2 separate regions of the Homo sapiens genome follow, and region 2 is linked to region 1. Evidence: fine-mapped expression QTL. Tissue or cell type: whole blood. Region 1 holds a variant in brackets; the other region holds the start of a gene. All regions are shown on one strand. Distances are between the middles of the regions.

Region 1 (2,768 bases):
AAAGAAGAATTTTTTGGGCAAACCATGTTTTTAAAATGATGTATGAATTAGAACTTGAAGCCCAGTGCAGTGGCTCACACTTGTAATCCCGGCACTCTGGGAGGCCAAGGCAGATGGATTGCTTGAGCCCAGGAGTTTGAGACCAGCTTGGGCAGTATACTGAGACCTAATCTCTACAAAAAATAAAAATAAAATAAAAATTAGCCAAGCATGGTGGTGCATCCCTGTAGTCCCAGCTACTTGGGAGTACTTAGGCTGAAGTGGGAAGACTGCTTGAGCCCAGGGATGGGGAGGTTGCAGTGGGCTGACATCGTGCTACTGCACTCCAGACTGGGCAACAGAGTGAGACCCTATCTATCTATCTATCTATCTCAAAAAAAAAAAAAAAAAAAAAAGCTTGAAAGATCTTCTAAGAAATTGAAATTCTAGCAAAAAAGAAAAGTAATATTGAAACCTGTTGCACTATAATGAAAGTTAGACCTAAATTATGGTATACATGTGCTTTCTCACATCTTTACTGAATTATTTTAAAATAATTTAAATATGTATTTATTAATAAAGATAAAGGTAATTTACCTTAAATACATATATATGCACATATATTCATATATATACACATATATTCATATATATACATATATTCATATATATATATACACATACATATATTCATACATATATATTCATATATATATATATTTTTTTTTAAACTGAGTCTCTCTCTGTCGCCTGGGCTGAAGTGCAGTGGTGCGATCTCGGCTCACTGCAACCTCCGCCTCCCAGGTTCAAGCGATTCTCCTGCCTCAGCATCCCGAGTAGCTGGGACTACAGGCATGCGCCACTAGGCCCAGTTAATTTTTTGTATTTTTAGTAGAGACAGGGTTTCACCATGTTGGTTGGCCAGGATGGTCTCGACATCTTGACCTTGTGATCTGCCTGCCTCGGCCTCCCAAAGTGCTGGGATTATAGGCGTGAGCCACCACGCCCGGCCTATCTTAAAATTTTAAGAGCCAGCTATGTGCTAATGTGATGACGAAGCAAAATTTTAAGGGATATATTTTTGTTGTTGTGGTTTTTTTTCCCAAGAAGGAAGCTGCATTAATATCATGGTTTATTCTCTCCCTAAAGACCAACTGCAACCAGATGAAGTAAACGTAACCTCAAGATTTTATTGTCCTCAGAATAAAACAAAAGCTGAAACTTAGAACTGGATCAACTGGCCATTTCTCTTCTTATCTCCTCCTAGTGCAAAGTGCCTGGATCCCTTAAGAGCCAGCATTCTCTTAGATCTGCAGTGGGGTCAACACTAAAGCCTCAGCACAGTCTTCTTTGTAGTTTTAGCCTTTTTCCAGAAAACTGGTTTAGTCTGTCCACCACGGCCACTTGGCTTCCTGTCATAACACCACTTTCCCTGGGCATCCAGAGAATCCTTGCCCTTTTGTACTGTGTCATTTGTAGGGTTTGTACAGAAAGTCAGGCGGGTTTTAAGAACACTCACCATGTTTGTGGGAGTGCTATCAGCAAGGACAGCAGGGTGTGTGTGTGTGTGTGGTATGTGTGTGTGTGTGTAACTTTCATTTACACTCCTGTGCCATGCTCA[T/C]TACTGTTTTCAGGAAGTAGCTCAAAAAATAAATGTCATTACTTCATTATTTAACCTAAGGGACATGATCTGGCTTTCAGAATTACACCCTTATTGGATCATAGAATGATAAATTGTTTGAAGCACCAGTATTTTTAGTTTAATAAATTGAGGAAATGGAAGTAGTCTCTTTTCTATTGTTGGTGTTTGTGCTGCAAAGTCAACAAGAGGCTGTCAAGTTTGTAAATAATTACTGCATGGAGCTTTTTGTGGGAGCAAACTTTTCCACGAGAAGTGAAGTTTAAGCAGAGATTCAGAACTACAAGGCCATGCTGCATGCAGAGGTAAACCCATAGAGGATTTTTGTTGTTACCTACTCACTCACCAGTAATTACATGCATTACAGTAGAAAGTACTCAATAAACATTTGAATTAATAACATAAATTTAACTTTAAATGCATGTGCAACACAGGATAGTTGTAAAGCTCCATTGTAATTGTACATGAAAGCATTCTGGATAAAAACAAAGCACTATCGCATGAAAGCTTCTTATAATTATTTTTAAAATCCAACCATCCTTAGTTTTCATATTACACTAGATTGCTGGCATTCATGGCTTTTAACATTCAGAATACCAATTCCCTGGGTTTCCAGGAAAAATGTAAAGGTAGGCAATTAAGAAGCTGATGGTGGGGGCTCCCCTACTATAATAGTAGTGGTAGTGGAGAAAACCTCTGCATGGCCAAGGATGGGGCAGGTAGGAGCCATGAATACCTTTGGGCAGTAATGGCTGAACCACATCAGAGGCTAAATAGTCCAGCCTCGGCACCTCCCTCCAAAAACAAGGCAAACCACAGCACAGTCTATAAATGGGACTAGACAGACATTCAGATAGAAGATGCAACTTTAAAAAAAATAGGCAACATTCTTAAGATCATTATCTTTCCTTATATCCATATGGAATTTGTCTGTTTTATAAAAACTCTGGCAGGAAAGACAGGAAAAGAGCATCTTACCTCGATGTTCACATGCTCCTAAGAGATTGATGATGTTTGGATGGTGTCCAAGTTTACAAAGAACTTCCAGTTCTCCTGCAAAGTCCCTGTGATCATCTTTGGAGGCATATTCTGGGAAGAAAGTCAAGGGTTGTGATTCTTCTTTGTTACACCTTTTCAGAATCAGCTGTCC
Region 2 (2,768 bases), 100 kb after region 1:
TACTTATGTATACTCGAATCAAATTATATTAATATGCCCTATATCCATGAAGTTTAGTGAATTTTCCCAAATTCATCTCCAATATCAATTCGATTTTCGTTATTAAAATTAGAATGTTTTCAAACCGAAGGGGAGAGACTGATGGCAATGATAAATGTATTTGTGATATGTAGTTCAGGTTTGGATACTGCCTTCTACCTATGTCACATAGGCTGAGTGAGCTACAGAGGCACACCACTATCTGGAGTATCTAAGCAATAAACACGCTGAACCCAACACACTGGCCAACCACTCCTTCACTCTACAACAGGCTTCATATACTCTCCTGTGTTAAAGATTTTGGTAACTGCCTAAATTTTTGTTTCATTGGGCCAGTAAACCCTTTATGAATTACTACATGGCAAACATTTTTTAAAATAAAACAAAAATTCTAATAGCCCCAATCTCCCTGACCCTAACTACAAGAAAAAAAAAAAAGCCTACAATTTCATTGCTTTGCTTAAAATAGGATGTAGATATAAAATCTTTTTACAGAAAAGCATCTTTGTTCCCTTTTAACAGTGACAATCTATACACTGCCTTAATTGGGCCCCTGTATTTCTCAGCATGAATTTCATTTTTTACTGAAGATTTTCTTTAAAGCAGGTAAAACCGGTTTGTTCTTTAAAAAAAAAATCAATAAGAAAAACACTCCAGAATGAGGAGCAGGAAAATAATGCATGATAGTAAGGGGATCTCTTCAAATAAGATGATTTAATCGGTCCTCAAAGAGTTTCTAACACAGGGGCCAATCACCCAGAAGACAAACTAGCAAAATCAGTTCATGCCACAGAGCCTTTGCATTTCAATCCTTCCACACATATTGACTGGAGACTCACAGAGAAATGGTGCCTTTGCTACAGCCACCCCTTGTTCATCAGCACTGATGAGATTTGGGGAGAGCACCCAGAAATCACTAACTCTGTTTTTTAAAATACTAAATTAAAAAAAATAAAGCCAAACCTTACCAGAAAGGAGCAAGCTGACTCCACAGAGAACTAAGCTGGCTAAAGAGTCCATGCTTCCCCAAATCTCTCCATCCAGTTTCCACAAATGTGCATGAGGTCCCAAGGATCCTTTCAAAAACCCAGCGGTTTGTGACTTTCCATTAGCATCGTCCTACTACGTCTTGTTTACAAGTTAGAGGCAAGAAGGAACAGCACAGAAGCAGGCTGTAACAGTCTCATTTCTGTCTGAGCACAGGGAGTTTTAAGTTCCTTTTTCCTGTTTCCTTTGTAGATTAGGATGGGAAAGGCTGTATCTTAAAGGCATTTGGTATCAGCAGGGCTGGGGGCACTCAAGCCCTATCCATCTCGCAATTCATCAAAACACTTATCTGTTGCTGTTGCTTCTGCTGCTGCTTTTGCTGCTGCTGTAGGGGCAGAGGAATTTTTGTTGGAAGTGTGGGTCCCGGTCAGCATTTTCAGAAACAATAGGGGTATCCTCTCATAGGCGGGAAACTGAGAATAACAAGCCCTCCACCTATGTATGGTATGCGATGATGACCAATCCTTCTCAGACTTCTAACAGCTCTCCCGGGGCTACTGGGATCTCTGACAGAAGGAGCTTTTGGGTGTGGGAAGCCGTTTTGGCTTTTGTTTTCTCATTTTAACCCACATGGTTTGAATTGGGAGAAGAAGGTTTCCGTGATGAGAAAATACAACCTGAAAAGCAATTAATTTCAGTGAGCACCGGTGAGGTCAATGCTCAATGTAGCCCCAAGAGACCAGAGTCCAAAATTGTTAGCCTGTTTTCTTTCACACAGATGGCCTGTTGGTTGGCCATTAGCCCAAAGATACCCATGTTGCCGGCTATAGCTTTAATTTTCATTAACAATTCATCTAAAGGTGATCAAATTTCTTGAAGAAGTTGGCATAGAAGGATTTTGGTAATGAGAAAGATTTGGTAGTCATTGAGCAATGGTGTTTCAGAAGCAAATTATATATAACATTTAAAAACTAATCTGTGTAAAAACACAAACATACAGGATTAGATTGGGATAAAAATGGTGCTCATGAGAGCAAAGAGAGTTCATGGACCAAAATGAAAATAGCCATGGAATGTACAATATCTAGAATGAGGTCAGAGACCCTACACTTATCCAGATAATTACTCCACAATATGAATTATGACATTAGATTAGAGAGTATACACTTTGCTCATCATCGACCTTCATGCCTGAGGAAATCATTATACTCCTCCTTTTCCTACCCACCAGAGGAAAAGGCAGATGCAGCTAGTCTTGACTAATTTCTGTCCCAGGTTTTATCACATCGATGATGATCTTAAGAACCAATTAATGTTTCCAGTTTGCAGGTGTGAAAAAGCCCAGGTTCTGTCTGCAAACAGAACTGGGTTCAAATACTGGCTCAGCCACATGTGTAGCTGAGAAAAGTTACTTAGTCTTTTTGAGCCTCAGTTTCAACAGCTGTGAAATGGCAAAAATATCTCCTTCCCAGGTGTTTTGAGAGGAATAAATGAGGTTTAAAAATATAAAACCATTTGGTACTATGCCTAGTTCTTTGAAGGTTCTCATTAAATGTTAATAAGTTTATTTTCTTTCATCTTTCCATTCAGTCTCAATTTAAATTCCAAGAGCTTCTACTAAAAAGCTATTTTCTATTCCTATGAGATGACTTTAAATTTGTCATCACGAAAAAAAAAAACAAAAACAGTGGGCCTGGCACAGTGGCTCACGCCTATAATCCCAGCACTTTGGGAGTGGATCA

The links. PIP is the estimated chance that this variant, and not a neighbour inherited with it, causes the effect.
Region 2: TEK starts here. The variant in region 1 is fine-mapped to the expression of TEK in whole blood (INTERVAL, PIP above 0.99).

What each region holds. Positions count from the first base shown.
Region 1 is chr9:27,209,060-27,211,827 of GRCh38, reverse strand. It overlaps TEK (TEK receptor tyrosine kinase), which reads right to left. Exons shown (of 23, transcript NM_000459.5): 16 at 2,597-2,707. It also overlaps the pseudogene RPL36AP34. Among named protein-coding and RNA genes, the nearest start is that of EQTN, 87 kb to the left of the region's middle. The variant T/C (reference allele first, on the strand shown) is at 1,601.
Region 2 is chr9:27,107,882-27,110,649 of GRCh38, reverse strand. It overlaps TEK (TEK receptor tyrosine kinase), which reads right to left and starts at 1,425. Exons shown (of 23, transcript NM_000459.5): 1 at 1,008-1,425. The coding sequence starts at 1,059.